Linked DNA regions of Homo sapiens: all the other regions are linked to region 1. Evidence: fine-mapped expression QTL. A gene starts in region 1. Each other region holds a variant in brackets. All regions are shown on one strand. Distances are from middle to middle. Region 1 holds the start of PLA2G7 (phospholipase A2 group VII). Region 2 has its middle 19 kb from the start of MEP1A. Region 3 overlaps MEP1A (meprin A subunit alpha). Region 4 overlaps MEP1A (meprin A subunit alpha). Region 5 overlaps ADGRF5 (adhesion G protein-coupled receptor F5). Region 6 has its middle 4.7 kb from the start of MEP1A. Region 7 overlaps ADGRF5 (adhesion G protein-coupled receptor F5).

Region 1 (4,068 bases):
TCAGTAAGAACCCAGAATCATATTCTGAAACAATACAATTTTAGAACTGAATGTTTCTCTTCAATTTCCCTTCACTCAGTACTTTCTCTTCAATGCTTTTATTTTATGGAAATTTCTCAACATCTTGAGACGTCAGTCAGGCTTATTATCACGAATCTTGAAAAAAAATTAGGCTTAAGAGGAATCAGAGTGTAAATAATCCAATATCCACCTTCCTTTCCAGGAAATAGCCATCTTCTTGGGTATCAGGAAAAGGAAGATAAAGGGGACTCCTAAACTGACTTTCCCAGGGGCTCCCACTCCAGCTGCTCAGGTACCCAGTTAGCACTTTTCTTAATGTTCTGTGCTGACAGAGCTTCAAAGAGTGTGGTAAGTCATATTCATGTGCAAAGGTGAGAGTGAGGGAATGTGTTTAGGCCCATGTATGTTCCTCACAACAAAAGTGCAAAGGGGACAGAGACACAATGGAGAGGAAATGAGGACCCAGCTGTCCCAGGTTCTGTCTGAGGGAAAAGTCCTGCGGTGCTAAGCAAGCCCTTCCACACCTCAGAAGGGATTTCTCAACTGTAAAATGAGTGGCTGAACCAGATTCACAACACTCCTAATGCTGCAACTCCTTCAGTCTTGCTGGCTGTACAGTAGGCAGTCACAGACTATGGTGCCAGCCTTGGGTATGAAGGGCCCAGTTCAATGAAGAAAGACATTGAGACATCACCACATGGCCAGCAGCAGCTTCTGGTGCACAAATATCTGGGGAGGGGAAAGCACTTTCAGTGCCCAAGTGCAAGGAGCTGAAGTAGGCCTGCTGGAAAATGCCAAGGTGGTGCGCTGTCTCACCACTTTCTGCAGGGCCAGCAGAATTCCTCTGTGAGGGAATCTGCCTGGGTGATGGAGGCTCACCAGTGCCTCGTGACCAGAAGGCCATCTGCTTCTTCTTGATCAGGCCAGTGCTTAATGCTCAGATCTCTGAATTCAATGTAAGCTCAAGGTTTCGTGCTGAGCCTCTTGGGATTGCCAACACCTCAGGGGATACATTTTCCAGCTCCTACCCATATACCAGTCTCCCAGCTCAGCATTCTCATTTGGATCAAAAGTAATTTGTGCAAGCCTGATTTGTTAACACATCCCAAATCTGAATCCGTGTGCCTTTTAAAGGTGGCAAGCTGCCATTTATGAGCCATACGCACCTCTCCTTCCTCATCACCACTGCAGTAATCCCAAGAACCACAGGCATGAATAAAAGCCCGAACTTTTCGTTTTTGGTGACAGAAATTTCTCTTACAAGCTCCAGGAGATGATGAGGAAGACAGTGTTCTCTGTTTTCTGATTTTGCTTAATTTTTTAAAAATGAGCCTCTCCCTTGACTTGGTGACACAGCTGTGATCTTATCTGGCCGGCAGGGGGATGCTCCAGGTAGGACAAAGAGTGCTTTGTTTTGTTCTTACAGCAGCCACGCATAACTGGGCTCCAAAAACGCAATACTCCTCAAAGGGAGAGTGAGAGAGAGGGAGAGAGGGAGAAGGGTGTGTGAGAGAGAGAGCGGAGGGAGAGAGAGAGAGGAGGCAGAGTGAGAGGTGTGTAGTGGTGTGTGTGTGTGTGAGAGAGAGAGAGAGAGAGAGAGAGAGAGAGAGAGAGAGAGAGAGAGAGAGAGAGAGAGAGAGAGAGAGAGAGAGACGGAGAGAGAGATTGTCCCTGTAGGAGATCTACAGATAAGAAAACTCCGGGGCGGGCGCGGTGGCTCATGCCTGTAATCCCAGCATTTTGGGAGGCGGAGGCGGGCGAATCACGAGGTCAGGAGATCGAGACCATTGTGGCGAACACAGCGAAACCCCGTCTCTACTAAAAATTCAAAAAAATTAGCCGAGCGTGATACGGCACGCCAGCAGTCCCAGCTACTCGGGAAGTTGAGGCAGGAGAATTGCTTGAACCCGGGAGACAGAGGTTGCAGTGAGTCGAGATCGCGCCTCTGCACTCCAGCCTGGCGACAAAATGAGACTCCGCCTCAAAAGAAAGAAAGAAGGAACGAAAGAAAGAGAGAGAGAGAGAAAAAAAAGAAAAGAAAACTCCATGTGTTCCCTGCCTGTCCTGATTCTCCCCCCAGCTCTGAGCTCTTAGGGTTGCTTCCTTTCGGGAAAAGGTTTGGAAGAACTGGTGTCTAATACCGTCATCCTCTCCCTCTCCCCGCAAGGATCCTAGCGCTGTTTCCGAGGGCTGCAGGGACTGTGAGCCCAGGACCGGCCAGCAGAGCGGGTGCGACTCAGCGAGCCCACCCCGGCCGGTCGCCGCTCCGGGGTCCCGACCTCCAGCGCGGCGACCGTGCCCTTCCTCCCACTCCCGCCTCGCCCCCGGGGCCCCTCCTCACTCAGGCGCGGCGCGGAGCTGCTCGCGGGAACTGGGGTCCCTGGGCGCGTTCCACCGCGCACCAACGCGACCCAAGCGCTCCAAACCCGACTGCTTCTCGCCGACAGCACTGCGAGCCTCCGACCAGCCGCTGTCCCCCTGGCTGCGGGCCGAGCAGCTCTGGCAGGCGGCGGGCGGGTGGGCTGCGCGCGGGCTGTGTCCTGGGTCCGCCTAGCGCGGCCTTGTGGCCCCGACCCTCTCCTCCCCTGGTGATGCTGGAGGAGGTACCGGGGAGGAGCGTGTGTGGCCCCGGCCTCTCACTAGCAGCGGCGGCTCCCGACGCTAGCCTGCTCGAGCGCACCCAGCACCCTCCCCAAGACCATGGCCCGCACCTGGACCCGCGGTTAACTTAGCCCGCCGCGGAGAGAGCCAGGCAATGCCTGGGTGGTGTCGTGCTCACCAGCTCCTTTCCGCAGACCTGATGCCGATCAGATTTACTCCCTGCTGAATTCACCCCCCAGTCAGGCCGGTTTTCCTTGTTTCACCGTGTTCTCTGAATACACTGAATTACTCCGAGCATCTATAGTTGGCAATGCCCTGCGCATTTTCCGCACTCCGATACACTTTACACTGAACACCAATTCGGAAGTTGTGTGGACCGTGCTCCAGATTGGAAGGCCTGCCACTGTGCTGGTGTCATTTCTCCCTGGAAATGACAATGAAGGACAATCAGGAATAGCACTTAGGTCTGAGGAGAAATGGAGCTAGAAGGAGCCGTTTCATAGCTCAGTGTAACACAGAGTTATTTGGGGTTTAACTGAAACGCCTTCCTTCATCTTCCAATGTTTTCTCTTCAATCCACTTTCTAATAAATTAAAAACACACTCATTTAAAACTTCAGCTAGAAACTTAGGGAAAGTAGTTTGAAATTTATGTGTGGTGTTATTAAAATTTTATATTTTTAAATCGTGTTTTGGTTTTTGGTGAGGTGCCAGAACTGGAGATGAAATTTTGCTTATTTTGATTTTGAGTATTCTGCAGTAAGATGGCCTGAATTTTAGCTTGTTTCTCCCACTTATGAGTGGTGTGACCTTGGGGAAGTTCATCATCTCTGCTTCTCGGTCTCCTCATCCATAAAATCAAGAAAATCAAAATCAGTCAGTCAGAGGCAGTTTGTGAGCACGAAATGCAAATACATGTGAAATGCTTGGGACAGAGCTTGGCCTATGGGAAACATTCATTCAATATGTGTTATCTAATATTGATAGCTTAATGAAGCAGTGACTCATTTAAACCTAACAATAGATTTTATTTTTAATTTAAATGGAACTCTATCCGCCTAATGACATTGTCTTGTACTTCCTGGACTAACCCCCTGTAAAACAAATGGCCCACAAATATCAATCTAAAAGGATACATTATGCCCTACCAAAGACATCTCTAACGTCTTCTTTTGACCTTAAGACAAAGGTGAAGACAAAGTTGAAGTTGAAGACCTAATCCCACACTAAAAAGGTGGTAAGCTTTGAGAACAGCTCCTGAAAACAAGTATGCAACATTTTATTCACTTCTCTCATTGCCAGCAACATGTCATCTCCCATTGTCATTAGGTCATATTCTCTGAGCAGCCCCACAGCAGTTGGCATTTGGCAGGTTAGTGCCCTGAGAAGATGCCCAGTGAAGAGTGCCCAGATTTAGCAAATAAAAATGCAGAACATCTGGTGAAAT
Region 2 (4,068 bases), 40 kb after region 1:
AGCTCACATAGCGGATTTGTTGTAGAATTAGTATTTGAATTTGGGTTTTCTGTGTTCTAGTCCAGTCATCTGTCCACCGTCCCACACTCCCTCCAGAGGATTGTTCCCCCCATCTTATAAAATCACATGTAACAACTATAGGGCAATCAGGCATCACCAATAATTCCTATGCAAAAGAGCAAATTTCACTAAGAGACAGCTCAGGAATTCTCTCCCCTGCTGGCTTTGTCACTCTGTTCTCAACATTTGGGTAGTCCTAGATTCCATCAGACCAAAGGACTTTGGGGCAGAAGCCGTGAGCTCTCCAGGAATCTTGGACTTGAGGGGTACTAGAATTTTTCTCTTTGGGCACTCTGGCATGGCTTGTGGGAACATTATAAGTACAGCAGCAGTCTCTTAGCAAACCATTTCTTGTCACATGTCATTTGACAAAACCAAGGCAAAGAAGAAGCTCCCTTCCAGGATATAACTGGAGTCCCAAGGCCAGCCTGTGGCCACACATGTTCCTCTTATTGGGCCGGGGAACTCTAAATTCTTGCCACATTTGCAGAAGAGAAATCAGAGACCTTCCACCCACTAGGAACCATGTGACTGTTTAGCAACTTTGCAGCAGGGGTTCAGAAATTAGAGAGAACAGCTTCTGCTCTCTAAGTTGGCTTCCTATTTCTCGCCTGGTCACACTCAAGACACTTCTCTGGCCTTATCTAACACCCATGCACATTGTGCTAGTCTCCAAGTAAATTTAGCTACAAAGATTTTTTTTTTAATGTTCAGTACTGGAATTCCCTCAGCCATGTGACTCTGAGCCTCCTTATCAGGTTCCATGAAACTTGATGACTGCAGATCCTGAAGAATCTAAGGTAGCAAAATACTTTCCACTGAGAAGTCAAGGTTGTGTGTGAAACAGTGAAACATGAGGTCTGGCCCCTATTGCTATTATAAAAATGTTAAGCTATGTAAGCTTTTGGGATGGCTTTTCTGCCATCAGAGCAATCTGTGGAACTGGTTGCCAAGGAGCCAGCAAAGGCTAGATGAGTTCCTTTACAAAACAGTTCTATTGAAGAATAATTTACATGCCATCAAATGCTCTCATTTTAAGTGTATAACTCAATGATGTTTAGTAGACATATGGTTGTGCAACCACCACCACAAACCAATTTTAGAAGATTTTCAACACCCTAAAGAGATCTCTCCTGCCCATTAGCAATCACTCCCAGCTGCCACTCACATGCTCTGGCAGTCACTAATCGTTTTGTCTCTATAGATTTGCCTTTTCTGGACATTTCATGCAAATGAACAGATGAGTTCTTAAGAGTAGGTGTCTCAATGACTCATCTATTCAGTCATATAACAAATATACATTAGGCACACTTAATGTGCCAAGCACTGTTGTAGGTGCCAGGTGCTCACCCTAAAGTGGACAGATAGGCTAGATCCCATGCAGCTGAGAAGGCAATAAGTTAACTCACAAAAACAGTAAAGGGGGATGGAATGTGAAGGGGAGGCCCAAAGATCTCAGGAGCCCTTACCTGGAGCTCATAATGTAGTCTGAAGAATTCAGACCAGAAGAATTCAGGTCTC[T/C]TGGAGGAGGTGGTGGTATCTGAACAGAAAACTAAAAGGGAGGCTGGGTTAAGCAGAAGAAGAGGAGGAGAGAGCACACACTAGGCCAAGGAGCTGCTTTAGGAAGGCCCAGACCGAAGAGAATTTATGCCAAGTTTGAGAGACCAAAGCAAGTTTGGCAAGGCTGGAGTATGGTGTATGTGAGGGATCTGGGACAGGGAGGGGGAAGCGATGGCCCTAGTGACCCTAGAAAGCAGATGAAGCCCGGTCACAGATGCCCAGGGCATATCAGTTTGATGGTACCTTGAGGGCAATGAGAAGCCTCTGGAAGGCCTTAAGTAAAGTTGGTTGTGACATAGTGGTATTGCAAACATATTGGAACAGGGCAAAAATGCAGGCAGGGAGACCAAGTAGGAGACTTCTGGAGCAACCTAGGTAAGAGATGCTGAGAGGTGACAGCGTGCTGGCAGTCCTCACAGCCCTCGCTCACTCTCGGCGCCTCCTCTGCCTGGGCTCCCACTTTGGCGGCACTTGAGGAGCCCTTCAGCCCACCGCTGCACTGTGGGAGCCCCTTTCTGGCTGCCCAAGGCTGGAGCCCACTCCCTCAGCTTGCAGGGAGGTGTGGAGGGAGAGGCGCGAGCGGGAACCGGGGCTGCGTGCGGCGCTTGCGGGCCAGCTGGAGTTCTGGGTGGGCGTGGGCTTGGCGGGCCCCGCACTCGGAGCAGCCGGCCGGCCCTGCCGGCCCCGGGCAATGAGGGACTTAGCACCCGGGCCAGCGGCTGCGGAGGGTGTACTGGGTCCCCCAGCAGTGCCAGCCCACCGGCGCCGTGCTCGATTTCTCACCGGGCCTTGGCTGCCTTCCCGAGGGGCAGGGCTCGGGACTGCAGCCTGCCATGCCTGAGTCTTCCCCCGCCTCCGTGGGTTCCTGTGCAGCCCTGGCCTCCCCGACAAGCCCCGCCCCCTGCTCCACGGCGCCCAGTCCCATAGACCACCCAAGGGCTGAGGAGTGCGAGGGCATGGCGCGGGACCCGCAGGCAGCTCAACCTGCAGCCCCGTGCGGGATCCACTGCGTGAAGCCAGCTGGGCTCCTGAGTCTGGTGGGGACGTGGAGAATCTTTATGTCTAGCTCAGGGATTGTAAATACACCAATTGGCACTCTCTATCTAGCTCAAGGTTTATAAACACACCAATCAGCACCCTGTGTCTAGCTCAGGGTTTGTGAGTGCACCAATCTACACTCTGTATCTAGCTGCTCTGGTGGGGCCTTGGAGAACCTTTATGTCTAGCTCAAGGTTTGTAAACACACCAATCAGCACCCTGTGTCTAGCTCAGGGTTTGTGAGTGCACCAATGGACACTCTGTATCTAGCTGCTCTGGTGGGGCCTTGGAGAACCTTTGTGTCCATACTCTGTATCTAACTAATCTGATGGGGAGGTGGAGAACCTTTGTATCTAGCTCAGGGATTGTAAACGCACCAATCAGCACCCTGTCAAAACAGATCACTCGTCTCTACTAATCAGCAGGATGTGGGTGGGGCCAGATAAGAGAATAAAAGCAGGCTGCCGGAGCCAGCAGTGGCAACCCGCTCGGGTCCCCTTCCACGTTGTGGAAGTTTTGTTCTTTTGCTCTTTGCAATAAATCTTGTTACTGCTCACTCTTTGGGTCCACACTGCTTTTATGAGCTGTAACACTCACCGAAAAGGTCTGCAGCTTCACTCCTGAAGCCAGGGAGACCACGAGCCCACCGGGAGGAACGAACAAGTCCAGACGCGTTGCCTTAAGAGCTGTAACACTCACCGCGAAGGTCTGCAGCTTCATTCCTGAGCCAGCGAGACCACGAACCCACCAGAAGGGAGAAACTCCGAACACATCTGAACATCAGAAGGAACAGAGACTCCGGACACGCCGCCTTGAACTGTAACACTCACCACGAGGGGCCGTGGCTTCATTCTTGAAGTCAGTGAGACCAAGAACCCACAAATTCCAGACACAATGCCACAGGGAGGCAGCACAGTAGGTAAAGGCTTGGATTCCCAAGTCAGCCTGATCAAAGAGTTGTTGAACCTTGGTTACACTGCGTAACTTCTCTAAACTTCTCATCTGTGATTGCGGAGTATAATAATCCCTCCTCACAGGATTGTCAATGTGAGAATGAAGTGACAAGGCTTCCACAGCATTTTACACAGTGCCTGGCATCAGGTGCTCAGCAATGTGAGGTTCTGGGTGGCAGGGACCCACCACGGCCTCTCCATCTCACGCTCTGCTCAAGAAAGACTCACTGCACAGCAGCAATGTGTTAAGCACTGTGAGTGAAGATGAAGATATACTTCCTGCCATATTCATTGAGCAAGGTAAATTCTTAGGGTTTGTGTACTATGGACTCCTTTGGCTGCCTGCTGAATCTTGCAGACCACTTATCAGAATCATGTATTAAAAGCATAAAGTAAAATGCATAAAAGCTTCTTATTGATTCTCAAGTGTAACCAAAGTAGAAAACCCCTACTCCAG
Region 3 (4,068 bases), 72 kb after region 1:
CACATATTCTTTTATGAAATATATTCTCATATCTCTGGTGTAAATAAGAATAAAATTGCTGGGTTATAGTATAGGTGTAGGTTTAGTGTTAGACCTCTTTCAATGTGCTGGTACCATTTTATACAACCACAAACAATGTACGTGAGTTTCGTTTACTCCATGCCTTTGCTAACATTTGGTGTTGTCAATTTTTAAAGTTTTAGCCATTCTGTTGGGCATCTAGTGCTATTTTATTAATTTATTGATTTATATTTCCATTATGACTAGTAATGTTGACCTCCTTTAAAGTTACTCATTGGTCATTTGTATATCTTCCCTTATAAAATATCTGCTCTGTTAACCCATTTTAAAAATTGAGTTGTTATTTAGTATTGAGTTCTAAGTGTTCTTTATATATTTTGGATATGTCTTTTATCAGATATATATTTTGCAAATATTTTGCTCCAGATACACTGTTTCTTGTCTCCAGTGTCTGATAATAAATCATCCATCTTTCAAACTTTCATATTATTGTTCTCCTGTATGTAATGTCTTTTTTCTCTAGTTGTTTTCAATACGTTCTTTTTATTTTTGTTTTTATAACAGCTTGATTATGGTATGCTTATGCTGATTTTCTTTTTATCTATCCTGTTTGGGCTCACCAAGTTTCTTCTGTCTTTAAGGTGATTTTTAAATAACCAAATCTGAAAAACGTTAGGCCATTATTTGCTCAAATATTTTTCTGTGTTTCTCCTGTCCATCAGAGACTCTAACTGCACATATCTTAGACTGGGTGATTTTTTTCCCATTGGTCACTAAAGCGCTATTCATTTTTCTGAACATTTTTCTCTCTGTCTCTTTTACCATCGCCAGTCAGCTTTTAAAATTATCCAGTGAATTTTTTATTTTTGATATAATACTGATAGAATTTTCATTGGGTTCTTTTATATAATTCCCATTTGTCTGCTGAGATTATTTGTATGTTCATCTTTATTCCATTAAATTATGTAACAAGTATACAATAGAGATTTAAAGTGTTTGTCTGTTAAGTCTAACATTTTAGTCACCTTGGGGTCTGTTTCTCTTTCTAGTTATTGCTTTTACTAATATCTATCAATAACAATTTCCTGTTCCTTCACAGGTCTCATAATTTTTGATTATATATTAGACATTGTGTTACATTGTAGTGATTATGCGTGTTTTCATTCTCCTCTGAATTGTGTTAATTTTTGTTAGAGCAGTTAAATTACTGCATGATCATCTGGAATTTGTGGAGGATTTTGTGGTCTTGCCCTTAGTTCAAGGCAAATCTCTTAGTTCTGGAATATAGTCTTTACTGTTAAGTCATGGTCCTTCTGGGATTTCAATGGAATGCCCGAGTTTCCCCAACCCCTGTAAATTTGCATGACTCAAACTCCAAATTCTTCCTCCACTGCAGTGGGCAGCAACTGATGTATCTGTTCAGGTTGCTCAGCCTTCCAATGGCTACTACCTACTGAGGGGCTTGGAGCCTTCTCCCATTTATGCAAAGTTCATGAGTCAGACAAGGATTGAAGGGGCACTTATATACAGACTTTGGGATGAATCTCCTCTTCATCTACCATGACTTTCCTTTCTAGGACTTTCTCCCTTGATTTTCAGCCACTCGGGTTAAAACTCAGCCCCAAACTTGTCCTTGTGGTATGTTAAGAAAATGCAACTGTAGATTTATACTTGAGTTCTCTTTCTTGCATTGAAGAAATTAGAGCGTGCCCTCATGCAAAAAGCTGTATAAATGTGAATCTTACCCAATGAAATTTTCCTTCTTTTAAGAAAAAGTCCTCCAGTTTCTGCCTGTTTTAGCCATTTTCCAGCATATTTAAAGAGTTTATTTTCTTATTTTTTCAAGTTTACAACTGTTATCTGTGGGAGGATTAATTAGATTCAAGCTCCTTGACAATTTTGAGCACCAGAAATTCTCTCAAAGGAATTCCTAAACTGAATCTAGGTAGCCTTCTTATGCTTATCTTCTAATACGTACAGCCATTGGTATCTAAAATTAACTCTTCTCAAAAGAAAAAAAAAGAACAAATAAAGTTAACTCTTCTTATATTATTTGATCCAAGGTTAAAGGAATGCTAGTGGTTTTCAAAACTAACTTGTTTGACACAGAACTATGTACAACTTACTATGTCAGGGCAGTTGGCTAGGAACAAGAGTTACAATGAGACAAAAAGTATATCCCTTTCTCTCAAGGAGCTAACAGTATCTTAAGTGTAGCAAACCACCTACATAAAGACAACTCAAGCCTTGGCCACCTATAATCTCAGCACTTTGGGAAGC[C/T]GAGGCAGGAAGATCACTTGAGCCTAGGAGTTCAAGTCGAGCCTGAGCAACAAAGTGAGACCCCCATCTGAAATAAAGAAAGAAAGAAAGAAAGAAAGAAAGAAAGAAAGAAAGAAAGAAAGAAAGAAAGGAAGGAAGGAAGGAAGGAAGGAAGGAAGGAAGGAAGGAAGGAAGGAAGGAAGGAAAGAAGGAAGGAAAGGGAGAAAGGAGAGGAGGAGGAAGAGAAGAAGGAGGAGGAGGAGAAGGAGGAGGAGGAGGAGAAGGAAAAAACAAGAAGAAGAAGAGGAAAACAGAAGAAGGAGGGAAGGAAAGGAAGGAAGGAAGGGAGAAAGGAAAGAAAGAAAGAAAGAAAGAAAGAAAGAAAGAAAGAAAGAAAGAAAGAAAGAAAGAAAGAAAGAAAGGAAGAAAGGAAATAAATCAGTCAAATGTGGCTCCTGCATTCAGAGGAGGAGCACTCAGGGTTGCCTTCATGGAGAAGAGAAAGACTTCAAATGGGCTCTGTTTCCATTTATCCCAATAATGTTGAGGTAGTTTTTACAAAATTATTACAGAGTTGCTTAGTTCCCTCTTTACAGCTTATTTAGGTATGGAGAAGGAAGAAAAGGTATAATTTTAAAATTAATCACTCTCAGAAATCCCACCATTTGGATTGAGAATAACAAAAGCGAAATAGCCTTCTAGGAAGCTTGCTTTCAGTATAATCACTTTTTTTTTCTCACATTTTTGTGACACCACAGCTACCTTGGGTACATCTCTTCATATTACAGATGTAACTAAGTAAGAATAGGTAAAAGTACATGAAAATCTCCCAGCAGATGTAATGAATGCTCTTGTTATTGTTATCTGTGTAGTTTCCACAATTAGTTTATTGACTATTCCCATGACTATTTCTTTAATGATCTTGATATGACATTATATGACATTTAGGCTGTGGAGTCTCCAACTTGATAGTTTATTAAATGAAATAAAGGCCAGAAAATGTGATGTAATTTCCTGGCCAATAGATATAAACTCTTTGAGAGAAAGCACTAAATCAAATGTGCAAGAAATGTAATTTTATTTTATATAACTTGGCTTAATTTTTAACTTAGATTCTAACCTTCAATGAGTTGATGGGAGGGTAAAATGCACACAAAGTAAAACATAATCTCAGTTTCTCTGGAGTATCTTTCTTTTCTACCCCATCTTTGTCTTACAATGCCAAAGTGCATGCATGCTAGGTGAAAGGAAAGGCATTTGATCTTTGGTCATTGGTCCCCACAGGTTACTAGTCAGTATCTATTTTTCCTGCCCCTTCAAGTCCATTAGGCTTCTGCTGCTTGGGTGCTGAGCTCGGGATACAGAAATCTCTTCTAAGGCTCTGTGCAGTACTAGCTGTCTAGTCTTGCCATCTCCCAGGCATCTGGCTGGGAAGCAGGGTAAAATACCGTATGTGCTTCTTATGCTTTCAGAACCCACAAACCTCTCTAAGTTCTGCTTTCCTCCTCCAGAAAGAGAGAATGTCTTTTTAGATTGGGGTAAGGAACACTATTCTCACTGCCTCACTCTAAGGTACTTTATCTATGTCAACTAAAGCCAGAGCTACTCACAAGCCACTTCTGTTTTCTGTTCTGCCATGTGACTCTCCTGAGGCAATGCACTCTAAATCTCTGCTTCAGTGGGGGAAAGGCAAAGGGAGAAAGTGTGGAAGTTATTTTATTATTTTATTTAGCCATATACACATGTGTATATTCTTATTTTGTAGACATATTTGCATTGTGCATTTAA
Region 4 (4,068 bases), 96 kb after region 1:
AATATTTACTGACAAATGTCCTTCTTTTTATTTTCCTCCGAAGAGTTCTAGTTTTTGTTGCCTGGACAATGGCTGTGGTTCACTATTTCACTTTGTTTGGGTGGACAGAACCCTGGGGTGTGGGAAGCCAGACGTGTGATGTTTGGCTGCTCTTTCCATAGGTGCCGGCTACTTCATGCAGTTCAGCACCAGCTCGGGGTCCGCGGAAGAGGCAGCCCTACTGGAGTCTCGGATTCTTTACCCAAAGAGGAAGCAGCAGTGCCTGCAATTTTTCTATAAAATGACGGGAAGTCCTTCAGACAGACTCGTTGTCTGGGTCAGGAGGGATGACAGCACAGGCAATGTTCGCAAGTTGGTGAAGGTGCAGACTTTTCAAGGTACTTAGAGGCATTCACACGAGGAATGGATTGGGTTAAAATCCGGGATCCTGCTTCTTCTCCTCCTTCCCTCTTTCCTCCTACTCCTCCTTCTTCTCTCTCCTCCTCCTTTTCCTCCACCCACTTTCTTCTCTTCTCAGAGCCTATCATAATATATGGCATGTTTTAATTACTCTATGAATGTTTTAACCACTGAGAAATTAGAAGCAGTATCTTGGGCTTAGGTAGGGATGAAATATACTTTTGTAAGAAGCCAATCAGAATATACAAATCCAGTTTTCACTGGAAATTTAGAGAAAGCAAAGGCCAAGACTGAGAAAATGGATGGTTCAGGAGTGGAGATAAGAAGGTAAAAGACCTGTGCGAATTGATGCTGCGGGAGAGAGAGTAGTTAAATAGTTGACCAGCTCACGCCTGGAATCCCAGCACTTTGGGAGGCCGAGGCGGCCTTGTGGATCACAAGGTCAGGAGATTGAGATCATCCTGGCCAGCATGGTGAAACCCCGTCTCTACTAAAAATGCAAAAATTAGCTGGGCATGGTGGCGCGCGCGCATGTAGTCCCAGCTACTTGAGAGGTTGAGGCAGGAGAATTGCTGGAACCCGGGAGGCGGAGGTTGCAGTGAGCCAAGATTGCACCACTGCACTCCAGGCTGGTGACAGAGCAAGACTCCATCTAAAAAAAAAAAAAAAAAAAAAAAAAAAAAAAAAATTGACCAAAGTGTTTTGCATCTGTTTCAGAAAAACAAATGATACCATTATTTAATATGCTGAAGTAACTTGAAGCCTACTTGTGAAGTTGGTGGCAAATAAGTCATTGGTATATGTTAACTTCCTATAATCACTAACATGTTCCTAAGTGTCACTTTGTATATTTATATAAGAAGGTCAGCATGTAAATGATTATAGATGGAGAAATTTTTGTTGAAAAGTAAGAAAGCCTGTCTCCCTTTTCCTAGTTATGAATGAACCACCACCATAACAAAAGAAAGCAAATACTTTGTTTATAACCCTGGATCTTGATTTATGGCCAGATTATCCTAGCATCCAACTGCCTACCTTAGCATTTAATTTATCAATTGAAATGAGTCCAGGGAAAGGAATTATTTTTTATATATCTGCTGCTCTTGAAGAAGAAACCTTCCTTAGAGGTCACTTGTAAGAACAGGTGCCCAAATCGCCTATATCCAAGCCACTCTGTGGGCTGCCTGGGAACTCTACAAATCACAGTTTTGAGGGGTTCACTTTTCTGGTTGAAATTTATTATAGTTTATATGATAAAAGGATGACAGCTAGATACTCTTTAAGAGTTGAGGATGTGTTATGTTACCAAGGATTGTAAATATTTAATGAGAAAATGAGTTAGAGTTTCAATAATATTGATGGGACCTATTATCACTCACTTTCATCTAAAGCTAAAAGCGTTAC[T/C]TCTAAGCATAAAATCAATCAAGCAAACATCCTATGCTTAATTTAGTTTCTTACACTGCTGTGCTTTGTGTTTCATTGAATTCAGAGTATGCCTGTGTACGTTCCCTGGGAACACTGTATGAAAGGTTTTTTTAAGTAGTCTGTTCTGATACTGGTTTGTCAATGAAACTTTTCAAAAAGGTTAGTTGAATATCACTTAGTGTTGTTTATGTGATATTCAACTTAAGACAGTCGCAACCAATTTGAATAGCTTTTAAGTTTTGCAAAATGTATATTTTGACCAAAACACTTACACACAAAATGTCTCCATATGCATATCTGTATATAATATATGTTACATACATAATGCTTATATACAAACTTACATGAAAAATGTTGGCATACAACTATGTGTATGTACACACACATGCACACACACACGTTTTTACTGAGGCCAGGACTTCCTTATAGAAGACAATTCTGAACTAACAGGGATTAAATTTGTCTCAAACAATCGTAGTAGCATTATTGCCTGACTGATTTAGGGCAGCCCTGTGGAAGCATGTAAACGAAACCATCTTAATAATTTCATAGATGAATTTCTGCCTATGTGGTATAGCCTCTTGGGTCTCCTTCCCAGTGCCAGATTCCCCCATCTCAACCTCATTTTGACATCCTATATTAAGAAAAAACAAAGCAGGTACTAATCAGCAAGAACAGAATCCTATTCTCTTGACAGAATTCCCATGATCTATAACCTGCTGGATAAATAGTTCAAATCCTATATCTCTGTTCCTATTCCTAGACTTTCTGGCACCTATTACCCTTCAAGTCCATGTGTCTTCCACTAGGCTGCCATGCTCTCCGCAGGAGAGGGCAGCTGCCTAGATTTGTATGTTACAGAGGTGGTCGTGTGCCTTCTCTACCTCTCTCCTGTGTTCCCATGTAACCTACCTCTCTCCTGTGTTCCCATGTAACCTAACCACACAGGCCATAATCAGCTCCACCCTAAGAAACAGAACATTGTTAGACCTGTCCCTTGAAGTTGTACTTAGAGAGAATGGCCTGAAAACACAAGGGAGATTAAAGGTCTTTTCCTTTTCAGGGAAAGTATAGTTCTATAAGTAGATATCTGGTTAAAAGACACAGAAGAAGGAAAAAAGACACTCATCTGTAGGAACTCAGTTTAGCCAACATGACTTCCACTTGGAAGCATTTTTCCTCTCCTCTTCAAGCCCAACTCTAGGGAATACCCTGTGCAAAAATATCAGTGTAGGCACATCTCTTTGCGGAATTGAGTTGCTTTGCTTTCGCAGTTTCCTCTCTCCAGTACCCCCAAGCTCCTGTCTGGCTTCTTATACTGTTCAACCCAGGATCCTATGTTCTAGAACGGCCTTCTCACCATCTTTCCTCAGCTCTTAATTCGAAAGTCCCACTTCTAGTTCATGCTCAGAGAAAAAGCAAGTAGACCTAATCTTTATTAGAACGTGCATTTCCAGACAATAGTACTCTATTTGGCTTACTTTGCTCCCCTACATGGTGGACTTTCAGATAATATAAGGAAGAGAAAAAAGTCTAGATGTTGGAGAGGGAGTCAGTTTTAGGTAGGGAAGATCCAGTCAGTCCTACAGGTTATTATCTGCTCTTCAGCATTCCTTATAGCTCTCTGGCAACAAGTGACAGGTCGGACCATATGGAGTTACTATTTTTTTTACTTTTGGCTTAGAAAATGGCTATTTTATATGATTCAGCCTAACACTTGGGTTTTCTTTGCTAACCTTAGGGGTTACAGTTGAACCAGCCAACTCAGGAGGAAATCCAGAACCTGGATTCTTATAGTGGAAAACAAATTCACGGTTAAGATTTGAATGTGAATTTTAAAATAAATCATAGTATTTTAAAAAACAATTTTTCCTTATTAGGTATGTAACTTTGGAAAAGTTACTTAACCAGTTTATAACAGTACCTATTTTATAGGGCTGTTGTGAGGATTTAATGAGATAATTTATGGAAAGCACATGGCACTGTGCCAAACTCATAATAAGTACTCATTAAGTGTTGGTCACAGTTCTCACCAGCCTTGTTCTCTGTCCTCAGGAGATGATGACCACAATTGGAAAATTGCCCATGTGGTGCTCAAAGAGGAACAGAAGTTTCGCTACCTTTTCCAGGGCACAAAAGGCGACCCTCAGAACTCAACTGGGGGAATTTACCTAGATGACATCACTCTGACAGAAACCCCCTGCCCCACAGGGGTCTGGACAGTCCGGAATTTCTCCCAAGTCC
Region 5 (4,068 bases), 140 kb after region 1:
ATTGGAAGTAAAATGCTTCAAATTTGTGGTCAAGCAATTTAAAAGCAGTAACATATTTTTTAAAGGGTTAATCATAAACTGTTATACAAAACAGAGTCAGTATTGCTGTTTTAATTTATTACCATTATTATTATTCATCAATATAAACTGGAGGGTGGGGAACTTTAGGTAAGATTTCAGATTGAAAACAAAAGCTAACAGGATCAGAAATCATATGAAATGACTGAGAGACAAACAGGTCTGCAGAGAGAGAGGGATAAAGCTGGAGGCACAGAGATAGAAAATATTGAGGTATGCATAGATACAAAGGCAGAGAAGTGAGAAGGACCAGACACCAGGAGAAGAGACACAGAAAGGAGAAGCTCCAAGTCAGACCTCAATGACAAATGACCTCATCCTTAGCTCTTTGCTGAAGATGAAAGGAAGGTGAGCACAAGCTTTTCTTGTCTTTTTTTAGATCCAAAATGCCATCGACCTAAGTCATCGGGATCCTAATTTCTTGGGTCTTCTGCTGCTGGGATCTCATCTACAACCAAAGCACGACACTTGTGTGCATATATTTTTGGGGTCTTGTTCTAGAGTGGCTAAGCTGGAGCTGGCATCAAACCTAATGCCTTTTCACAGTCTGAAATCCAGAAAATAACAGCCATCTGACATTTCCCCTTCCATACGCCACATCTCCCATTTCTACTTGGCCAAGAGGCAAAAACCTATTTGCAAAAGGGCTTATCTAACATTCTCACCTGGAATATTTATTTTTCCTTCCTGCTTCCATTCTACTTTGCTCCAATTAACATTACCCTGACTGCAGCAGTTCAAAGATACAGGATTGTTGTCGCACATCACCTTCATTTCTTCATTTGCCAAAATTTGGATGGGCATAACATCTATTTTCTTCTTGCACTCATATTCAAAAATGTCTAATATCAGTTTGCAAACATATTCACCTGCATAAAATACACAAAATCATGTATTATTATAACACATGTGTATTTTCTTAGAGGAATGTACCGTCAGCTCATGGATCATGACAGTACTTCATGAAGTATCATTTTCAAAAGCATCTGAGACTTGGTCTAAAGACGCCTAAAAAACCATTCAGGAATTCAGGAAGTGCAGATATTTCTCATGCCACAAAGTGGAGTACAGAGATGTTCTAAGGAAATAGTAGAAATTTTAGGGACTTTTCTAATAAGAAAAAAAGTATAACAATAGAAGAAGTAGAAAAGAAAAATCGAAAAGCCTTGGAGAATTAGAAAAAGATGGGTAATATTGCCGTAGTATTTAACCATGTTGTAAATCAAAATCAACAACTATGTGATAGGACCCATATGTCTATAGCCCACCTCATCATGCAGAGAAAAGAAGATGGCCCCATTGGCATCTGAGTTACAATGCGGCTATTACATTCCAGAATATGTCAGGTTCACCACTAGTCTTAGGGAAGAATTAAGCCTTATGCTTGCTTCTGTAGTTGCTTGGAGCGGGCAAGAGGACAGGAGAAAGCCGAAGAGAGGGATAACAGTGGAGAACCAGAAAATTTGGTGAGGGCAGGGAGAACGATGGATACGTTCACTCTCTTGATTGTAGTAATGATTTCACAGGTGCACGTGTGTCAAGACTTTTTAAATATGTACAGTTTATTATATATCAATTCCTTCCTCAACAAAGCTATTTTAAATTTTTTTAAAAATCAATTGAAAATTAAATTAATAATAAAGTAATATTATATACTAAAACAAAATAATGAAAATAATTATATTATATACTATAATAAAACAAATAATGAAAATAATGAATTTTAAAATTAATTAACAATTAATACCACGGTGATATGATTTGGCTCTGTGTC[C/A]CCTCCCAAATCTCATGTCGAATTATAATCTGCACATGTTCAGGCAGGGCCCTGGTGGTAGGTGATTTTCTCATGGGGGCAGTTTCCCCCATGCTGTTCTCATGATAGGGAGTGAGTTCTCATGAGATCTGATGGTTTAAAACCAGATGTTTGACAATTCCCCAGACCCTCTCTCCCTCTCCTGCTGCCATGCAAGACATGCCTTGCTTCCCCTTTGCCTTCTGCCATGATTGTAAGTTTCCTGAGGCCTCCCCAACCATGCAGAACTGTGAGTCAATTAAACCTTTTTTCTTCATAAATTACCCAATCTCAGGTAGTTCTTTACAGCAGTGTAAAAATGGACTAATACATATCGGATTAATTTTCAGTTTTGAAAGGTTGAACCAGGAGACTTATTTTGGAAGAGAAAAACACTATCTACATAGCTACGTAAAACACTATTACATATTTGCTTCTTTATAAGCTCTTCATTCCATTCCTCACACAAGTTACTGAATGGAGACCTACCTGCATCACCTGGAGTGATGTTGTGGATGGTGAGCTTGGACACCGAAGTCATGTTGTTGAAAAGTGCGGTGTAAATCGAGAATCTGCTGCTGTTCTGGATTTCCAACTGCTGTTCTTCATAGCGCCAAGACACATTGGAGGACAAAACTTCCTTTTCACACACCAGACTGACTGTGTCCCCTTCAAAGATGATTTCTGGTGTGACAAAGAAATTGCTTTCATCTGGAAACCCAAAGAAAAGTTAATAAGATCCCAAAGCAAATAAATGTCACTGATGCTACTCACCACACACAACCACCACAAGGCTCTTGGAGATCTTGACAGCATCTGTGGTGCTGAACTGGCTGAGGCAATGTGTCTCCTCACTCCATTCCCATGCAGCTGGTGTCTGAGCCCTGAGGAGGTATGTCCTGCCACATGCCAGGGACAGGGTTTCCCGACTGGGGTGTTTGCCCTATGGCTCCTTAACGGCAGTAATGGAGATTTTAAAGCTATTTTCAATATTTCAAAAAGTGTGGTAGAAAATTGCACATTTTTTTATAAAAAAAAAACAAACTTAAATACCAAGTTTCTGTGCTACACACTGGAATAATATCAACTGCTTCTTATCAGTAACCAATATCTCAAGCTTATTGAAAGCTCTGACCTAAGTCTTGAAGGATTTAGAAATGTAAAAACAAATTAATTAATTATAATAAAGTCTGCTTGAGAAATAAGAATTTCCTAATACTCATGGACCTCTTTAAGAGTGGGAGCTTTATAGACAGTAAGTTTGGATTTGAATCCTGGTTCTGTCCCACCCATAGCTGTGTGGCCCTGAGGAACTTGCTTAGTCTGGCCGAGCCTTAGTTCCACTGTCTGGAAAACAGGAGCAGCAAGAGAGAGTTACATTGGGAGGTGACTTGGAGAAACTGTAGCTCTTATTATTGTTTTGGCAGTAAAAATCCATGGGATCACTGCCTTATCATTTCACAAATAAAAATAAAAACACAGCCAGGCATGGTGGCTCATGCCTGTAATCCCAACACTTTGGGAGGCTAAGGTGGGAGGTTTGCTTGGGGCCAGGAGTATGAGACCAGCCTGGGCAACATAGTGAGGTCCCATCTCTACAAAAAATAATAAAAAAAAAAATGTTAGCTGAGTATGGAGGTGTGCACCTGTGGCCCCAGCTACCCTAGAGGCTGAAGCAGGAGGATCGCTTGAGCAAGGAAAGTAGAGGCTGTAGAGAGCCATGATTACACTATTGCACTCCAGCCGGGATGACAGAGGGCTGCACTCTGAGGCCTACTGCTCTAAAACAATGGCCCTCTATTTCTTATTGGTGCATTTTGTGAATATTTAAACCTCCACTGTGATATTAGTTTTACTTTTTTTACTTAGTTTTGGATCTGTTATACACAAACCCAGATGGCTCTGTGGCCCCCTTGTAAATCCCTGTGCCCCTTTTCCACACACCCCAGGTACAGTGGCATTAGTCAGATTGGGAGGCACTGGCATAAGAGGAGGAGGTGGTACAGAACCCCCTGTGCCAGGAACTGGAGTGTCTAGCTTCCCAGAGGACATTGTAGCATAAACTAATTTCCTAGGTTTACGCATAACCATAAATAACATGACCATATCTAAACAATTTCACTTACTGATAGTAACTGCTTGAAAGGAGTTGTAGTCCATTTTGTAGGTCTGATTGAGGCTCTGTACAACTTGTTCAT
Region 6 (4,068 bases), 54 kb after region 1:
TGTTAGCTGTATTTGTAGCTCAATTATTTTTATTGCTGAGTAGTACTCCATGGTGACAGTATTCTGTTGTGTATTTTATTCTAGTAGAATTTTATTGGAATATATGAATATATCACAGCTTGTTCATCTGTTTACCTGTTGACCCACCTTTACTTTGGGATCTACTAAAACGCTGGTGGGTACTTGCCTCCCCCATCTTTATGTAATCTTTATGAGGGCAGTGACAGTGTCTGTCTGGGCCACGACTGTTTCCCCAGTGCCTAATACAATGTTCAGCACAGGGGAGGCACTCAGTAAAGATTTTATGAATGAATGCATGAATGAATGAACACATGCGTCAATACATTGGTTTAGCTAATCAACTGAGAATGGAGACTGACCTATGAAAAGAACACATTATTAGCTAATTTCTCTATTTTGACCTTTTTCAGGTTCTGAGCACTAGACTAAGCTCAGTCTTTCATAAACTGAGAGAAACAATTCTTATCTTATGTGATTATTGTGAGTATTAAATGAGATAACCTATGTAAGACACTTTACACAGTGCCTGCCATGTAATAAGCACCTAATAACTTCTCTGGGTATTATAATAATTGCTATTATTTTAATAAGAACAAATGCTATTCAAGCTATGGAACTTTGATGGGGGTTGGCAAACTCCTGTTCCCAGAAATTCAACTGAAAAACCAAGGTGTAGCTATTAAAAGCTTTCTTCCTTTCCTGGTATGTAAAGAAATGTAACACTTCTACTCACAGGTCATCGGTGACTGACACTCTGGCTTGCATGTTTGTGCAAAGCTGTCCTTATTAGTGTAATATGTGACATTGTTTTAGAAAGTGGCTGCCATTGCAGTCTTCACACTCCCATCATTGGCAATTAGAAGGTAAATTTATATTTTAAAATTTGATTCAGAATATGAGTATAATCTCACCTGCTACCAATTCAGGAAGCCTCCTTTGCCAGTCTGTCAACTTTGATCGATTATTCTGAGAATTTCCAAAAATGCCCCCAATAGGCCTCCTATCACCTTCCCCTTGTTACTTCAACTGACATTCCTGTTAAAGTGGCAGATAATGCAATTGGCCCTAAACAGAGCTGTTGTCCACTTGCATAAAAGAATCAGCTGCACCAAAAACAATTTTGCCATTTTCAAAGGGAAATGGGATTACAGATACTATTTATTTTCTTAAATGGCTAAACCTCCTGTTGTCTGGATCAAGTTCCATGTGTAACTTACTATCATCTTGCTTCCATTAAAAGACCTCAAAACTGAATGACTTTTCTAGGACAAACAAAAAATCCCCAAACCAAGCCCTACCCATTCTTTCTCCAATACCACCCCTATCTGAAGAATTGTATCTGTCTGTGGCTGCCTCACACCCAGCCTGCAGCCATGGCACTATTTTCTATGACTAACATTGTCTCCCTTCTTAAAATACTTTAGGATCCAAGAATCCTCAGATGCCCTGGAAGGTCTTCACAGCTAACGATCAAGTGTCCCTTTTGCAATTTAAGCCTGTTTCCTTGTACCCTTATTTCAGAAGCAGTAGAAAAACTTCTTCATAGGAATCACATTTCCTTTCAGAGAAAAGTCCAGCTCAATTGTGTCTTCCCTTCACTCAACAATTTCCATGTGTTAAGTATTCTCTCCCAGATGTCACAGTCCAACTAGGCCGCGTGAGCAGCGATAATCCCTCTAATTAGCAGAGGTTGGAGACTTTTCCTGAAATCAGGGGACAATCTTGTAGCTCATAGCTGAGTTGGCTTCAGTTTAAATACTTTATGAGGGTTCGATAAGTAGAAAGAGAATTGGGAAAACATAAAGTAAGCTGCTTGTCTGATTCTTCCTTGTGTCATAAGAGAAAGATAACAATGTGTTCTTTGGGTTCTATAAAAGAGAAAAGGCTGGAACCAAATCCATTGAATGCCCACCTGGCCCTAAAGAGTGGCTTATTAGGGTCCTCAGTGCCCAGCTGAGTAAGAAGTACCCCTTGCCTCACCAATTGGGATTGGTGTCTGTACACACTCCAAAACACAGTTGCCTGCCCAGGTCAGCAGGTCTCACATTTTCCATATAGAAATAACCCCCAAGCTTGTTAAAAATGCAGGTCCTCAAACCACACTGCAGAGGGGC[T/C]GTTTCCTGGAGGCCTTCTGAAATGGACTTCTGTGTTGATGATCTCTCGAATTCTTAACATCTGATGTATTCCCTATTAGGAAACTGAAGGTTCTATGATCTTTTGATTTTCTTATACAAAGGGAATCAGAGGAAAGCTATTCGATAACCACAGTGAGAGTGGAAGCATCTGACTGATGCAAATTCCACAGTGTCCTGTTCATCAAAGTGTGTTCCACAGACTACCTGCATCAGAGTCACAAGGGTGCTTATTAAAAATGCAGATCTCTGGAACTCACCATTTGACGTGAGTCAGGATTTCCAAATTCCAAGCCAAGAAATTTGTACCTCAACAAACCATCCAGAGGATTTTGAAGGAATCTATAGCTTGGGAACTGTTTCCCTCAGGGTTAATTCTTCTTAGTAAACTGTTAGAGATGGAACCCTGTGAAACCAGGGGTCTGCATGCTACAGCATAATGGTGGAGGCCTCACTCCTGGGCTGTCAAAGGCCAGACATAGGTGTAAAGAACTGCCTCTCAGGTGGAATTTAGGAGCATTGTTCAGGATCTGCATGACCTTGAGAAGGTTCCTTAATTTTTCTTCATCTCAGTTTCTTAATATATAAAATGGAGATAATAATAGTTGCTTCTTCGTAGGATTGTTGTGAGGATTGAATGGATAATTACCCTTAGATACTTGGAATACTGCCTGGCCCACAGTAAGTACTATGTACATGTTGGTTGCTGCTACTGCTTCTGTTATAATTATTATCACCGTCTCAATTTCCACCACCTTGAGGGTTATTCTCTAAAACCCAGGGGTCAGCAAACTATGACCCTTTGCTTTGTTTTTGTGAATAAAGTTTTATTGGAACACAGCCATGTTCACACCTTTACATTATTGTCTACAGCTACTTTATGCTACATACAACAGGAGAGTTACATAGCTACAACAGGGCTCATATGGCCCACAATGCTTGACATATATCTCTTTGCCCTTTACAGACAGTTTGCCGACTCTTGCTCTATACACCTTTGGGCCCCTGTTAATATGTTGATTGCCCTGGGAGGAACAAGGACTGTTGTGTTTCAGGTTAGCTGACAGCTGGTTGAAGGCAGAACTCTGTGAGTGAAGCAGAAGGAATCAGCATCTTGCAATAGAGTAGAAAGAGGGCAGAGAACATCCTTGAGAAGGGTTTGGGGTGAGAGGACTTTGCAAGTCTCTTAGCCCAACTCCTTGCCTGAGCTTTTATGAAGCTGGAGAGTGTGTGGAAATAGCTGGGGGCGGGTTTTTCCATTTTCTACCTGTCAATGGCTTTCTTCCTCTAAGCTTCAGACCACTTTCTCAACTGGTCAGTTTATGAAATGCCCTTCCTGAGATCAAAGCAAGTCACCCCATCCGATACCTTCAGAGAAATTTCTATTTACTTTTTTCAGTTAAAATGAGAACTAATTACCTACTATGTTTCCAAACACTGGGGCAAATACAGGAAATAAAGCATGGACCTTGACCACAGAGTGCATAATCTTCTTTAAACTGAAAAGCCATAAACCCTTCAAATGAAGGACTTAAGGCCCCAGCCTTACTCATTTGATACCCTGACACAATGAAGAAGTGACTAGGATTGCAAATAGCTGGTAACTAATTAACATCTGCCATTAAGATTGTGACAATAAAATAATTGGGGGCAAGTTGTGTCTGCTGAAGACCTATGTTCTCATCACTGGAGATTCTACTGAGCAAGGAGTGGGCTGAGCTGTGTTTTTAGTGCCCATGTTTTGCTAGGAGGCAGTTGCTAACTAGCAGGTAGAAGGAGCAGTTTATTGAGTGCTTCCTATGTTTCTAGTAGCTGTGGTTTACATATGTTATCTCATTGAATCTTTACATTGGCCCCATGAAGTAGGCACCACTATCCATTCTACACATAAAAAGCAGGTACTAAAATTACTGTA
Region 7 (4,068 bases), 130 kb after region 1:
AGAGATTTTAATAAATTTGGTGTGAGACAAGAGAAGAGATAGAAGTTAATTAGATGAAACACATATAAGTATTACCCTTTTTTTCAATTATTTACCCAGTGGTGAGAGGATTTGGAATTGGTTGTCTGAAGATGTCATCATTACCTATAACCTCACCAGTTGCATCACCAGAATTTTTTAATGTAATTCATGGAATTTTAGGAGTCTAACAACAAATCAAGTGTGGAGGTCCCATTTTTTTACATTGACAGAAGGAAAGGAACTTCTGCCCTGTTACATAGCGGTAACCTCTATTATAGGTAAGAGAGGCAGGGTAGTTGCTTCTTCAAAAGCACAAGTTACTTCCAAGTAGTCAGAAAATTTCATACCTGTAAGAGCATCAAGCCCAGCTATTTTTTTTAAAGAAATTGATGAAGCTTGTTTTTTTATATTGCTCCTTTTTCTGAAAGGATTATAGCAATTTTCTTGGTATCAAAATTACTCAAAGGAGAGCAATAAGAGAGAGGATAATACCGCTGCCCCCTGGAGGTATGGAACACATGGTACTGAGAAGTCAAGGTTAAGGTATCTAGTCGGTCTGAGAGCAGAACACATACTTAGTTGTCTTAGTATTTGAATTGAGGCTTTTTTTTTTTTTTTTTTTTTTTTTTGCATTTCTAGGGTTGCATCTCCTTTGGAAATACACAAATAAAAGTAGTTTTGGAGCAACACAAAGCAGCACCAAACCCATTTTCCTAAGTGCTGAGAAATATGATCAGCCAGATAGATCGCCCCACCAAGAGCTCAGAGTGGAAGCTTTAAGGATCACCTTAGCCATCTGGAGCAGACTGTTTATTGGGGCAGAGATGCAGTCATTTCTCTTCTCCTCCCACTGGGAGCCTACACATTTGTAAGTGATGGTCCCGCCAATGGGACTCTCAGGGCTGCTGGGAACGTTTGAGAACCGGCATAGCTTCTGGATGACTTTCCCCGGCTCTCCGACACCTATTACGGGATCCTGGCATGTGATGTTTTCCCCTGTGTTGGAAACATTGAAATAAAGGGATAATTGCAAGGAAGAGACAATATAGTAGAAATACGGTCAGGCCAAGGTAGAATTTTGATGTTTGAATTCACATTTACCTTTACTTTCCGTCACCTTTTCAGAACTACCCAATTTCTTAATTTTGCCCTTGATTTTCCAAAGCCCCTCTCTGCTTTCCACATGAACCTGACTTCTGTAATCGGAACTTCCTTTTCCTAACAGAATTTTATACCTTCATCTGGAGATTCTCAACTGTGACATATTAGAATCATCTGGGAAGCTTTTGAAAACACCAGTGTCTGGGCTAAGTAAATCGGAATCGTCAGAGCGGGATTTAGGCATCAGCAGGTTTTTAAGCCTCCCTGGTGATTCCAGTGTGCTGTCAAGGTTGAGAATCACTGCCATAATCCAAAGACATAATTGCTAGTAGGAACTCTAGGTACCCATGACCTGAATATTCTAATCAATATGTTTAAGCATTTGTTCCTTCTGGTTTCCCTTAGAGGTGATTCTATTTCACCTCTTCTCATGACCAGGCAAGGATGGGGAAATGACACTTGCTGTGGAATCTCTCATGTCCAGTGGACCCTGACTCTGATGAGACCCCTCCCTCACCAACACTTTTCTTTAACATTAAGATCTTAACCACTGTATATAAATCTTAAATAAGTAATGTTCTACTAGGAAAAAGAAGCGAAACCATATTTGGTATAAAGAAAGAGGAGAAGAACAAAGATAAGTGAATAAAATGTGTTGGCTAAGATGAGTGATGGGGAAAAGAAGAGGTGACCTTTGCTGCACCCTGGAGGGGTTGTACTTGTGCGTGGAAAGGTCAGGTGAAAGTGACTCTAAATTGTTTCCTGTTTTGGTGCCCAGGGGCTAGTTGCCAACATGTGAGAATGACCACAAACTATTCAGTAAACTCAAACAATCTTGGTGATAACGATCCTTTGTCTATCACAAGTCCTGTTGCTGGGAAGATTTAAGAGGATGAGGAGTTGCTTATGGTAGAAGCCCAGGGTCATCATTTACCCCTTGTCTTAACATAAGATTCTCCCTTAAGATGACCTTGTATTAGGATGATCTATCCTTCCCTGCTGCTGAGGGGAGCTCCCCAACATGGGCTAGCATAGCAATGACTCTGTAAAACATGAACTTTCACCTCAAAGATATTATGTGATGGCAAATTGACTCAGTGGTGGCAAAGGATGGGAAAGGCAGCTGCCTATTCT[C/A]GAGATTAATTGTTTTCATGTAGCCTTGTCTCAGAAAAACAGTGCAGTGTGGACACCTTTCATTTGCTGAAACCCCAAAGGACCTCAACCACATTGATACTGTCCACTTCTAATCACCTGGTAAACTCCTTTAGCAGAGCTAAGCCACCCACAACATTTCTATTTAGCTCTTACTGTATTACATGTAATAATTTTTTTTTTTTTTTTTTGAGACGGAATCTCTCTGTCGCCCAGCCTGGAGTGCAGTGGCACGATCTTGGCTCACTGCAACCTCCGCCTCCTGGGTTCAAGCGATTCTTCCGCCTCAGCCTCCCGAGCAGCTGGGACCGCAGGTGCATGCTCCCATGCCTGGCTAATTTTTTGTAGTTTTAGTAGAGACGAGGTTTCACCGTGTTAGCCAGGATGGTCTTGATCTCCTGACCTCGTGATCTGCCCACCTCGGCCTCCCAAAGTGCTGGGATTATAGGCGTGAGCCACCGCACCCGGCCAATAACATTTTTTTATCACATAGATTTCTTCCCTAGGCTTGAGGCCAGGGGACATGGCTTATTTCTTTTCTTTTAAATACCACTATGGTGAGCCCAGGGCCTACCACAGTGAGGGTATTTAACATATGTTTATTGAATGGGGATGAATGAGGGAGTGAATAAATAAATAAGTCCCTGCCCTGACTATAACATCTTAAAGTAATTTAAAACGTTCTTACCAGGAACCAGATTCAGCTTCATAGATGGGCTCCAGACTGAATTATTAGCAGCATTGGTAAAGTGACAACACACATCAACAGTTTTTGAACACCAGGAAACTGAGCTTGCATTGAAATTGTGTTTGTAGCACACTTGTTTTTTGTTAACTTCTTTTGCTGAAGACAGAATTATTGAAAGAATTAAGTCACAACATGAGTCTCTAATGCACAAATTGTGTTAAGATAACCTAATATGAATAAACCTGTCCAAGCTTTCCCGAGGAATGTGCCACATTCATTTTTAACAGGTTTTACCTCTGGGTTTTGAAGTATGTAAGCCCACATTTGCATGTGTGCTAGTCAAAACTTCTCCTCTACCATTCATGACTCCAAGTCACACATTTTTGACATTCAGAATGCCTTTTCAGCATTCCACAAATCCTTCTCCCTATCTAAATTTCATCATGCTCTGAGCATTTATCCTATTCTGCCTTTACCATATTGGTATATAGTCACCTATTCATGAGTTTGTCTTCTCTACTAGACCATACGCTCCTGGAGAGAAAGTACCTTGTCTTATTTATCTTTCCATCTCCTGGTGCTCAGCTCAGTATCTGGTGCATAGAAAGCACTGAATGTATGCATATTAAACACAGAATGTTGAAATGCTGCATATGTCAAAATCCAGATTGATTATATCCCTCTGCCATGCAGCCTTCTTTAAAGACTACAGTGTTTATTGAGTCCCCACTTTTCTGAACTTCTACTGTTTTTTTAGTCTGTATTATTCTATTTGGATATTTTATATTATATGCATTGCCTTTCAGGGCATGGGCCCTTCTAGATATTAAAATATGTGCCCCACTTCTTTTTTCTCCCTTTCATTGCCTACTATGGTGTCTTGCGTTGAGTAAGCCCTCCAGAATAGTTATTGAAAAAATGAATGAGCTTGTAAATCCCTCATGAAGTTGTCTGTGTTTTGAGATTTTTGGGTTGTGAGATCATGCTGGTTGACCTTAATCTCTGGGAATCCCTAGGGATCTGGATTAAGGGCACCATCTACCAGAGAGACTTTGATTTTTTTTTCTTTTTTTGCTGGTTGACATAGGGTGCTACCAATGGACAAC

What was found. PIP is the estimated chance that this variant, and not a neighbour inherited with it, causes the effect.
Region 2: its variant is fine-mapped to the expression of PLA2G7 in whole blood (TOPMed, PIP above 0.99).
Region 3: its variant is fine-mapped to the expression of PLA2G7 in whole blood (TOPMed, PIP above 0.99).
Region 4: its variant is fine-mapped to the expression of PLA2G7 in whole blood (TOPMed, PIP above 0.99).
Region 5: its variant is fine-mapped to the expression of PLA2G7 in whole blood (INTERVAL, PIP above 0.99).
Region 6: its variant is fine-mapped to the expression of PLA2G7 in whole blood (TOPMed, PIP above 0.99).
Region 7: its variant is fine-mapped to the expression of PLA2G7 in nucleus accumbens (GTEx, PIP 0.99).

What each region holds. Positions count from the first base shown.
Region 1 is chr6:46,732,818-46,736,885 of GRCh38, forward strand. It overlaps PLA2G7 (phospholipase A2 group VII), which reads right to left and starts at 2,558. Exons shown (of 12, transcript NM_005084.4): 1 at 2,363-2,558.
Region 2 is chr6:46,772,413-46,776,480 of GRCh38, forward strand. No RefSeq gene overlaps it. Among named protein-coding and RNA genes, the nearest start is that of MEP1A, 19 kb to the right of the region's middle. The variant T/C (reference allele first, on the strand shown) is at 1,582.
Region 3 is chr6:46,805,138-46,809,205 of GRCh38, forward strand. All of the region lies in intron 5 of MEP1A (meprin A subunit alpha), which reads left to right. Among named protein-coding and RNA genes, the nearest start is that of MEP1A, 14 kb to the left of the region's middle. The variant C/T (reference allele first, on the strand shown) is at 2,302.
Region 4 is chr6:46,829,195-46,833,262 of GRCh38, forward strand. It overlaps MEP1A (meprin A subunit alpha), which reads left to right. Exons shown (of 14, transcript NM_005588.3): 10 at 162-377; 11 at 3,880-4,068. Among named protein-coding and RNA genes, the nearest start is that of MEP1A, 38 kb to the left of the region's middle. The variant T/C (reference allele first, on the strand shown) is at 1,804.
Region 5 is chr6:46,877,459-46,881,526 of GRCh38, forward strand. ADGRF5 (adhesion G protein-coupled receptor F5) reads right to left here. Exons shown (of 21, transcript NM_001098518.2): 8 at 3,997-4,068; 9 at 2,360-2,581; 10 at 744-947. Among named protein-coding and RNA genes, the nearest start is that of ADGRF5-AS1, 24 kb to the right of the region's middle. The variant C/A (reference allele first, on the strand shown) is at 1,853.
Region 6 is chr6:46,786,648-46,790,715 of GRCh38, forward strand. No RefSeq gene overlaps it. Among named protein-coding and RNA genes, the nearest start is that of MEP1A, 4.7 kb to the right of the region's middle. The variant T/C (reference allele first, on the strand shown) is at 2,136.
Region 7 is chr6:46,862,080-46,866,147 of GRCh38, forward strand. ADGRF5 (adhesion G protein-coupled receptor F5) reads right to left here. Exons shown (of 21, transcript NM_001098518.2): 14 at 2,963-3,118; 15 at 809-1,017. Among named protein-coding and RNA genes, the nearest start is that of ADGRF5-AS1, 39 kb to the right of the region's middle. The variant C/A (reference allele first, on the strand shown) is at 2,257.